Linked DNA regions of Homo sapiens. The protein of the gene in region 2 interacts with the protein of the main gene of each other region in a pairwise test. Each region holds a gene or a part of one and is shown on either strand. Other genes may lie near its edges.

Region 1 (3,746 bases), on a different chromosome or scaffold from region 2:
CCGGGACTGCAGCATCAACTGTGGCTGGAGAGGTTGGGGTGGCTGGGGTCGCAGGGGGCACAGACCGCCGGGGGTTGACGGTGAAGGTGTGTCCACTGCGGCGGGGGGCCCCCACCCCTGGCCCTGCCTTCACCCCATAGAACAGGCGGCTCATGAGGGGATCCCCAGGAGGTTGGGGGGCAGTTGGGGCTGGGGGTGGGGGAGACAGAGGGGCTGGTGGTGGGGGCTGGAGCTCCACTGCTTCCTCTTCCTGCTGTCTCAGGCCTCCAGTCCCAGCGTCCTCTGGTGGGAGGGGGGAGGGCACAGAGCAGCAGTTCTGCAGGGCTCTCAGAGGCCTGCCCTGAGCCCCCGCCTCCTCCTTCTCAGCCTCCCCTTCTCCAGCCTCCACACCGGGAGATTCCAGAAGCTTCTCTGCTGACTCTGGAGGTTCTGGTTTCTGAGTTTGAGCCTCTATGTCCCTGGGTGTCCATTCTCGAGCCTTCCCGGAGTTCAGGGTCCATTTCCACCCTTCTGTTGGCTTCATGCCCCTCTCGCCATCTTCCACAGGCCTCTGCTCTGCTGCCTCCACTCCTGCGGAACTGTTGCCTTGGGCCTCCCTTGTCAGGGTCTCGGACAGCTCTGCAGTCTCTTTTGGAGCTACCCCTGGAACTGGCCACTCTTCTTTTCTCCCACATTCTTCCGAGTAGTCTTGTCTTTCTTCTCCTGACCTCAGCCTCCACTCTGTTGCCTCCAGTTGTACCAAACTCTGTTCCTGAGACTCTCTGGAGTCAGGTCTCCATTTATGGGCCTCTGTCAGGCCCAACTTCTGGTAGGCAGATTCCCCTGGGCTCAGTCTACTTTCCACCTCTTTTCTCCTGGGGCTTTGCTCTCGAGACTCTGCTAGTCTCAGACTCCGCTCTGGAGTTTCTCCAGGACTCAGCCTCCATTTCCATGCCTCTGACAGTCGGGAGCTCCTGTCTCCCACCTCTCCTGGGCTTTGCCTCCAGTCCCGAGCCTCCAGAGGCCTCAGGCTCAACTCTTGGGCTCCCCCTATCCCCAGCCTCCTCTCTCTGGTCTCCCTCGGACTTAGTCTCTCTTCTCTTGACTCTCTTCCCTTGGGGCTCTGATCCCGCATCTCCCCAGGGCTGGGTCTCCGCTCCCGGGCCTCCAGAGGCCCAGGCTTTCTCTCTGCTAGCAGCTCTTCACTCCGTTGTTGTTGCTGCTGCTGCTGCTGCCGCTCCTGCCGGATGAATCGGTTCTGGTGCACTGGCCCGATGGCCTCCAGAAGGACCGCAGACTCATCCGGGTCTGGAGGTCCAGCCTCTACAGTCCCTAGCACAGGGCTAGGCTCCCCAGGGGACAGCCCAAGCTTGGCCCGGCGGCGCTCCAGGAGCCCTCGTTTCCAGGCTGGCATCTGGGACAGGCGCTCCCGTTCTGCTTTCTCTCGGCCTCGAACGGACGCCTCCTCCTGCCGGCGCCGGGCTAGCAGCTGTAGCTTCCAGTCTGGGATGGTGGCCATGGTCGTCTTGAGGTGAGGGTAGGGAGCACTGGGGACAGAGAACAGGAAGGAGAGGCTCCAGAGAGTGAGACAGCCCGGGGGTGAGACTGAGGGTGGGAGGAGAGGAAGTGGAGGGGGAGAGGTGGGACACAAAGCAGGGCAGAGGGGCTAAGGATGAGGACAGAGGGAAAGACGGAAGGCAGAGAACTGGGGAAATGGAAAAAGTGAAGAGAAGTTGTGAGCCCAAGTTGGGGGTGGTGGGGGTGATGTGAGAGGAAGAGTCCGGATTGGAGGCAATGAGGGCAGGAGCCAGATGTGGCAGCACAGGGTTAATGCGTATTAAAGACCGTCTCTAGGATGTGAGAAAGAGAGAGAAGGGCGAAAAGGAAAGTTGGCGTGAGGGAGAAGAGAGAAATGTGGCAGGGGTGAGGGGAACCTGGGTGCAGGCCAGGCTGCCTCAGCGATACCCCAGGGAGGCTAGTGTGGGAAGGAAGGACCAGGAATCCCTGAAAGGACCAGGAGGCAACGGGACCTGAGGGGGTGTTGGGGAGGCAAGGAGGGGCGGAGAGCGAACAGGTCTAGAGGAGAAGGGAAACCAGGGAAGAGGGGAAAGGAGGGCGGCGGCAGCAGCCGGGCGCGTCTCAGCGCGGGCCCCAAAGGTCCCGGCTCCGCTTCCAGCACCGCTCGGGCCACGCCTCTCCCCAGCCCCCACCCCTCTGCCCCGCACTCCGCCCCCGAGGCGGGTCGGGGGAAATAGCCACCCCCGAGACTTTCGGAACCCGGGCGTCAGGGCTGCCAGCGCGTTCCCAGAACCCTGGCGTCCACCCCCACCCTGTCCTGTCACCACCGCCTGCCTCCCCCACCGACTGCCCCACGCGACCCCAGAGTGCCAAGGGCCGGCTCCATGTCTCTTCTCCCCGGCGCCTGCAAGTCCTGCGCCCCGTCCCCGCTCTCATGAAGCCGTGACAGAGCCGGCCGTCTCCACCCCGCTGTAGCCGCACAGACTGACAATCTCGGCACAAAGAGGAGACAGCCAAGGTCCGGGCCAGGGACGGGAGCAAGGACAGGGGCGAGGAGACACCCACTCCCCAAGTCTGAGCCCCTCAGTCAACTCACAGGCCGCGGGACCCCCGGGGGAGGGGGTGCGGAGGAGCCGGGCGTCCAGAGAGAGGAAGAGGAGGAGAGAGGGACCGAGGGAGATCCGGAGACTGGAGGGAGGGGAGGAGGGAGGGAGAGGAGGAGGGAAAGAGGCAGCAAAGGAGGAGGGACGGAGACAGAGACCAGGGGGCCGGGCGGGGGCGGCGACCGCTTTGTCTAAGGACAATGAGGAGAGGGAAGGGGGCGCAGGGCGGAGCCGAGGAGAGGGCGGGGCCTAGATCCCTCCCACCCCGCGTGGGACTCGCTGCGGGACTGCCCTCTTCTCGCCCCAACCACTGGTCCTCCGCTCTGTCCCCAGGGGCCCTCACCAGCTTCCCGCCCGGACACGCCAGGTGTCCAGATCCCTTCCCCCAGCTCGCCGACCCAGGGCGGTGGCCCGTGACTCAGGCCCCTCGTGGGACTTTGGGAGGAAGCGGCAGCTGCTCCGAGCGGGGCCCGCCCTTCCCATCTCCTGCCGCTCCTCCCTACGCTTTTGCCTTCTCATCTGGGTCTGTAGGTCCAGCCTCTGAAGTCCTTTGTTTTGCGGGGTCGAGGGCAGCCGCCAGGCTGTGGGGGGCTTTGTGGATGGGCGGCAGGAGAGGCGCTCAGAAGCCAGAGGTTTTGGATGCTCCCTCCCCTACCAGAGCTGCTGCCCCGACTCTTTCTAGCTTCAACCTGTCTCCCTTGGGTCTACAGGTCGGCTGCCGGGAAAAAGGGGATTTGAAGGAATGGGAATGGGGACCCGGCCGCTCTGGCAAAGTGGGGGCGGGTCTGCGGGGGTGGCCGAACCCCAGCGGTTGCCAGAGGGCGTGGTGGCTGCCCAGACTCCAGTTCGGTGCTCCCAGGCTCCCTCTGGCTTTCTTTCCCAAACTCAGCCCTGTAGCTTGGGAGACACTGACAGACTGCATGCCATATGTAGAAAAAGGCTGACTTTTATTTTCCTGCAGAGCATCTTCCTCGGGAGAGCAGGGAGCCCCAAGTCATCGAGTTAAGAGCAGGAGAATCCCCTTGACTAGGTTGGGGTCTGAGCCCAGAGGCAGGGCCTAAGGAGGTGCAGAGACTAGGGCCGGGAGTGGTGAGGCAAGGTTGGGGCCTGGAGGGACAGCTATGACCGTTGAACTTGCAGACCCTG
Region 2 (3,646 bases):
GAGAGAGCAACAGGAATCCAGAAGCTAAAGCACAGGCCAAGAGGCCAGGCGCAGTGGCTCATGCCTGTAATCCCAGCACTTCAGGAGGCCCAGGCGGGCAGATCACAAGGTCAGGAGATCGAGACCATCCTGGCTGACAGGGTGAAACCATGTCTCTACTAAAAATACAAAAAATTAGCCGGGCATGGTGGCACACGCTTGTAGTCCCAGCTACTTGGGAGGCTGAGGCAGGAGAATCGCTTGAACCCAGGAGGTGGAGGTTGCAGTGAGCCGAGATTGCACCACTGCACTCCAGCCTGGGTGACACAGCCAGACTCCATCTCAAAAAAGAAAGAAAAAAAAAAAGCACAGCCAAGACAATTAAAAGAAGGAAGGCAGAGGCAGAGATGCATGAAAAAATGAGACATAGATGGAAACAGACTCACAGACAGGCAAGAGAAACATGAGGGCTAAGAGACTGGTAAAGACCAGAGCCAAACAGAGAAGACTTGCCTAGGGAGACAGACAGCCTAGACCTAGAGGCAGAGACAGGAACCCACACGAGCCTCGCAGAGACACATAAAGATAAGGAGGGGAGGCTGGGTGTGGTGGCTCACGTCTGTAATCCCAGCACTTTGGGAGGCCAAGAGGGGTGGATTACGAGGTCAAGAGATCAAGACCATCCTGGCCAACATGGTGAAACCCCGTCTCTACTAAAAACACAAAAATTAGCTGGGCATGCTGGCATGCACCTGTAGTCCCAGCTATTTGGGAAGCTGAGGCAGGACAATCGCTTGAACCTGGGAGGCAGAGGTTGCAGTGAGCCGAGATTGTGCCACTGCACTCCAGCCTAGCGACAGAGCAAGACTCCGTCTCAAAAAAAAAATAAGATAAGGAGAGGAGGTGTGTGAGAAGACACCCACAGAGAATGAAAGTGAATGGAAGGAACAGAGAAAAAGTGAAAAGGCAGATACAGAAACAGAGGGGGAGACATGCAGTCATACAGTCATACATCAAGGATGGAAGAAGCAAGATGTGGCCACTGACAAAGAGGCACGAGGAGGAGAGGCAGCAAGTCCCAGAGATGGCAAAAGAGAAGTGGCGAGGGCCGCGGTGGGTGGCGAGGGCCGCTGAGTTACCTGCGTCGTCACTCTGTATTCTTCCAGGGTCTGGGCCAGGCTCTCCACATCGCGAGTGCGCTAGGAAAGCCGAAAGCCAAATGAGACTGGGACCAGTTCCCCAAAGACACTGGGGGTGGTGGTGGCGGGGGGACTGGCTGGGGGGTTAAGGGACAGGGTGAGCTTGAGGGAAGAGCTGGGGCACAAGGGAGAGCACCGGGCAGAAGGGCTTCTAGATCCCTGAGGGGTCACACTTGGGACCTGGGGAAACCCTCCAGTCTCTCCAGCTGCACATCCAAGGATCAGACCCAAGTAGGACTTCCCTTTCTAGACCAGGGGCAGGAAGTGGCTGGTGCACATGGAAAGCGAATCTCTTTCCCTCCCGGGGCCCCTTACCTCAGAGAGGATGGTGTCTCTTTGGCAAATGAGGTGTTCACACTCAAAGAGCTGCCGCTGCCAAGAAAGGAGCCGGTCCATCCATCCAGCCTCCCAGGACTCCCCTTGGTCCTGCCCTCCACCTGGCCCCACCTGTTCTCTCGCACCCCCACGTATTCAGCCTCCTGAGATGTTCCAGGACTTCAGGGATTTTAGGGATGCCTGGGTGGTCCTGGGAGCCTGACAGCTTGATGGAAGACCCTGCCCTTATCAGGCTGCAGTCACTAAAACCGGAAATGGGAAAAATGGCCCCGGGGTGGTGGAAAGTTGTCAGGCACTAGGAAGGAGTGGCACCTTCAAAGTGTCCTTCTCCATGGCCAGCTCCTGACTTCTCTTTTTCACTCCATCCCGCTCGGCAAGCAGCTTCCCGTTCTAGAAGAAGGAATGGCTGGTCACGTTCATTCCAGCAAGTGGTAATGTCAAAATTAACAGCAGATATTTGCTAAACACTTGATTGATATACATCAGGCCTCATGCTAAGCACTTCATATGTTTTAACCCATTTAATTCCTCCAACCATTCCAGTGGGACCACAGCTTTAATTTCTTTGAGTGTGGCTCCCCCATCTATAAAAATGGAGCTAGGCCACGCGCAGTGGCTCACGCCTGTAATCCCAGCACTTTGGGAGGCTGAGGCGGGCGGATCACAAGGTCAGGAGTTCAAGACCAGCCTGGCCAACATGGTGAAACCCCGTCTCTACTAAAAATAAAAAAATTAGCTGGGCATGGTAGTGCGTGCCTGTAATCCCAGCTACTCAGGAGGCTGAGGCAGGAGAAATACTTGAACTGGGAAGACGGAGGTTGCAGTGAGCCAAGATCGCCCCACTGCACTCCAGCCTGGGCGACAGAGCGAGACTGTCTCAGGAAAAAACAACAACAAAAAAACGGAGCTTAACTAGGACCTACTTTATGGGATTGCTGTAAAGATTAGATAGGTTAATAATCGCTAACACTTACTGAGCATTTTGCATGTGTTGACTCATTTCTTATCCCCAATTTTAAAATCAAAAGAACAATATAAGCAGCCTGTTATCCACATTATCTATCACCCAGCTTCAATAATTATATGCATTTTCTCGGTTTTGTTTAAACTGAGATGTTTCTCCTCCAGATTTTTTTTTTTTTTTTTTGAGCCAGAGTTTTGCTTTTGTTGCCCAGGCTGGCATGCAATGGTGCGATCTTGGTTCACTGCAATCTTTGCCTTCTGGGTTCAAGTGATTCTCTTGCCTCAGCCTCCCTAGTAGCTGGGATTACAGCCACCTGCCACAACACCCAGCTAATTTTTTTTTTTTTTTTTTTTTTGAGACGGAGTTTCCCTCATGTTGCCCAGGCTGGAATGCAATGGCATGATCTTGGTTCACTGCAACCTCTGCCTCCCGGGTTCAAGTTATTCTCCTGCCTCACCCTCCCAAGTAGCTGGGATTACAGGCATGTGCCACCACGCTCAGCTAATTTTGTATTTTTAGTAGAGACGGGGTTTCACTATGTTGGCCAGGCTGGTCTTGAACTCCTGACCTCAGGCGATCCACCTGCCTCCACCTCCCAAAGTGCTGGGACTACAGGTGTGAGCCACCGCACCCGGCTCTCCTCCAGATGTTTTAAGTAGATTACTTTAAAGCAAATTGCAGGCATCATATTAGTTCACCTGTAGTTACTCCAGCATTTATCTCCTACTTGAGGACTTATTTCCTTTAGCAAAACCACAATACCACTATCATACTTAACAAAATTAACAATAACTCAGTATCATCTCATACTAGAAAGTTTGTGCTCCTTTTTCTTTCTTTTTTTTTTTTTTTTTTGAGAGGAGTTTCACTCTTGTTGCCCAGGCTGGAGTGCAATGGCGTGATCTCGGCTCACTGCAACCTCCGCCTTCCAGGTTCAAGCGATTCTCCTGCCTCAGTCTCCAGAGTAGCTGGGATTACGGGCACACGCCATCACACCTGGCTAATTTTTGTATTTTTAGTAGAGACGGGGTTTCACCACGCTGGCCAGGGTGGTCTTGACCTTCTGACCTCAGGTAATCCACCCTTCTTGGTCTCCCAAAGTGCTGGGATTACAGGGGTGAGCCACTGCACCGGGCCTGTGCTCCTTTTTCATTTTGGTTGTCTCAGA
Region 3 (3,500 bases), on a different chromosome or scaffold from region 2:
CATGTACCTGAAGCTCCGAATGTGCCTGACAGGAACTAGCTTCCTTTCATGGCTAACGAGAAGCACAGCCCTCAGTGTGCACAGACGCGAAGGTCCCGTCCGCCCAGCCTGTCCTGGCAGGCACACCTGGCTGCGGTGCAGAGGAGAGTCATGGGGAGCTGAGCCACCTGGCCATTGGCCGTAATATGGGAGTGACGAGTGAAGACATTCATAACAAGCCACCCCAGAACCTCAGCCCAGCATGAAGGTAACTCCCTCCAGCCTCCTTCAAAGATGGGAGCAATTCCAAGTGAAGGATGGTGGAAATCGGACTGTCGGGAAACTTCAAGGAAAAAGAACAGGCAATCGTAGTTCTTCCTACTACTGAGACTCCTCCCAGCTCAAAGCTTTCAGCAAACAAATAAGCAAACCTAACAGGCAGGGTTGCATTCTGGTTGGATAAACAACTAGTTAACGATCTCATGTGGCCACATTAAAGATGAAAGTCATTGGTAATGGGCTGACTGTGCCCCCAAGCATGGGGACCCTAACCCCGCCCCTGGGTGGGAACCACTTTCATAAAAGGCACTGGCTTGGACTTGGGCAAACGGAACTCTTTATCCTGAAAAAGTCACTGTAACTAAGCCAGGCTAAGGCAAAGCCTCCTAATTCAATCATAGGCCCTAATTAAACGGCATGCACTGGGGAGAAATCAGTGCCCTGAGGGTGGGACAAGAGCCTCCTAAACATGGGTTGCTGCCAAGCCACCTGTGACTGTGCCAGTGTCACGGCTGCCTCGCCAGGGATGAAATGATGAGCTGTTACTGTAAGACTGCACGAGCAGCTTATGAAATGGGGAAAGGAGGGTTTTCCTTCTAAAGTTCTCGGTGGAGTTTTTCCATTTGGTCTTAGAGGAGAGGTAAGGGAGAGGCCAGCTGTTACTTCCAGGTAGGATTCAACAGTTTTTATTTTTGAGACAGGTTCCTGCTCTGTCACCCAGGCAGGAGTGCAGTGGTGTGATCTCTGCTGATGGCAGCCTCGACCTCCCGGGTTCAAGAGATCCTCCCACCTCTGCCTCCCGAGTAGCTGGGACTACAGGTATGTGCCACCACGCCTGGCTGCCTGGCTAATTAAAAAAATTTTGTTGTACAGATGGGGTTATGCCATGTTGCCCAGGCTGGTCTCGAACTCCTGGGCTCAAGTGTTCCACCCGCCTTGGCCTCCCAAAGTCCTGGGATTAACAGGCATGAGCTACCGCATCCAGCCAGATGCAGCATTTTAGAAGCTACCTACAGCAAACAAGCACACCCAAAGCAGGGTCTTCACTGGCGCTGGAAAGCTGAAGGCCGAGCAGTGCCCCCACGTGCTCAGATGAGAAATGAGTGGCGGTGGCGCAATGGGCTGGCTGTGGCCCTGGGTGTGCGGGGAGGGGCGGGGCCTCCACTCTCAGGTGGGAGCACTCCTGGCCAAGAGAACTCCCTTCTGGTCTCAAGTCCATCAGGCAACAGGAGCAGAGAGGCCAGATAACAAGGTAGGGGTGGAGGACCAAATCGTGTCCCAATCTTGAGACGGAAATGGAGTTGCTTCCAAGTCAGCTGTGCATCCTACTGACTGTCAAAGCCAGGCCAGGGACACCTTGGGGCGGGCACCAGAGGCGGGCTTCCTCCCTCAGGAACACTCAAAGCAAAAGGGAGGTGTCAAGCTGGGGTTACACAATGTTCTCGCCAACACCCAAATCCACCCTAGTGCGGTACCTTTCTCTGCCCAGCAGGCCAGCGCCATCCTGAATGTAGTGAAAACCACTGTTGGTCCCACAGAGGAAATTCCAGTGGAAACCCCGGTCCTGGAACCGACTGCCCCATCTGGAAACACAGCAGTGGGCAGATCCCACCCCCTCACCCCCTCCGGCCCCCCTGCAAGCCCAGCTGGCACCCACATCCACCCAGACCCCTCTGCAGGCTCCATCGCTTGCTGGGACGGATGGGTGGGTGCGTCCACGAGTCCCAACCAGCCTGGAAGCAGCGAGAAGCCAAGGCCCTCCAGGCTCCCTCCCACCTCACTGCTGTTGCCAGGTGTGGCCCGCCCCCCAGCACAGGGAGTGAGGAGACTGGGCATCCTCTGCCCTCGGCTGTGGGCAGTCCTGTGAATGACACAGCCATAAGCAAGCACGTGGACATGGGGGCACTCGCCAGCACACATCCTGAGATGGTGGCGTGGGTCTGCCCCCACCTGCCTGTCAAACCATGGCCCCGGCCTCCTGCAGCCTCGGCGTCTTCATATGGGCTGGGCACTGTTGCTGCCCACTGTCTAAGACACCTATCCACAGCAGAAACACAAAGGACATAAGCCACACTGCCTTCAAACAAAGGCAGGGTCCTGCACAACGGCGCTGAGGCCAGAGGCTCACCAATTCTGCTTTTAAAGCCAGTTAGGCAAAGGGAATCTCGGTTTCCACTGGGAAAGGACAACACGTGAAGTCTAGGGAAGTGGATTTCTAGGATTCTATAAGGCAACAGACCCTATATGGAGACGGTAAGGTTCAAACCAAAACACACACAGACGCACCCAAAGCCGCAGGATCCCTCCGTTGGAGCTCACCCGGCCACGACCAGGCAGTCAGCACTCCAACTTCCTGGTACACTGGTGGGAGTGGGGTGCTGTCAGTGCAGACACAGGTTTTTTAGCTGCCACTGCTGGGCCCTTGGGTTCAGGTCTGCACTGCTGACAGGGACTGCTGCACTTCTCTTACTTCAGAAATTCGTGGCCATGACCAGGTGCGGTGGCTCACGCCTGTAATCCCAGCACTTTGGGAGGCAAAGGTGTGCAGATCACTTGATGTCAGGAGTTCGAGACCAGCCTGGCCAACAAGGTGAAACCGTCTTTACCAAAAATTAGCCAGGCGCGGTGCTGCACACCTGTAATTACAGCTACTCAGCAGGCTGAGGCACAAGAATCACTTGAACCTGGGAGGCAGAGGTTGCAGTGAGCCAAGATTGTGCCACTGCACTCCAGCCTGAATGACAGAAAGAAAAAAAAGAAAAAAAAAGAAAAAAGAAACTGCCAAGTACTCCCAGGAGACAGCCACGTCCAGCCAGCTCCTGACCACCCAGCAGCCACCCGTATATGGCTTGCTTCTGCTTGTGGGTCAAACAAAACCTAATGAAGGAAAGAACCCAGTCAGAAGGTTATCTCAAACCACTGCAGAGCATCACCAGCTGCCCCCTAACTGGTAAGGCCATGGGCTTTAGGAACTGGGTGATCTGAACCCTGGTGCATGGGAGATCTTTTTTTTTCCTTTTTTTTTTTTTTTTTAAATTATATGGACTTTTTTTTTTTTTTTTAAGTAAGAGCTAGTTGGAATCTTTTGAGCCCTGGGCTTCCTAAGGGACTGTATTTTTGCTTTTCATTGCAGGTGTGAAATGACCAGTAAGAGAGCAATTAATAGAGTCTATGTTTAAAAAAAAAAAAAAAAAGAAAGAAAAAGTGGCCAGGTGCAGTGGCTCATGCCTGTAATCCCAGCA

What was found.
Region 1: the proteins of KASH5 (region 2) and PPP1R18 interact in binary tests that used the Homo sapiens proteins (3 or more experiments, as listed by UniProt).
Region 3: the proteins of KASH5 (region 2) and TMEM11 interact in binary tests that used the Homo sapiens proteins (3 or more experiments, as listed by UniProt).

Annotation. Positions count from the first base shown.
Region 1 is NC_000006.12:30,684,521-30,688,266, forward strand, and holds the start of PPP1R18 (phostensin), read right to left. Parts: upstream 2,126-3,746; 5' UTR 1,527-2,125; coding exon of another isoform or gene 1,499-1,526; coding exon 1-1,498.
Region 2 is NC_000019.10:49,405,144-49,408,789, reverse strand, and holds part of KASH5 (protein KASH5), read right to left. Parts: intron 1,905-3,646; coding exon 1,827-1,904; intron 1,551-1,826; coding exon 1,494-1,550; intron 1,179-1,493; coding exon 1,119-1,178; intron 1-1,118. UniProt on the Homo sapiens protein: As a component of the LINC (LInker of Nucleoskeleton and Cytoskeleton) complex, involved in the connection between the nuclear lamina and the cytoskeleton.
Region 3 is NC_000017.11:21,200,688-21,204,187, forward strand, and holds part of TMEM11 (transmembrane protein 11, mitochondrial), read right to left. Parts: intron 1-3,500. UniProt on the Homo sapiens protein: Plays a role in mitochondrial morphogenesis.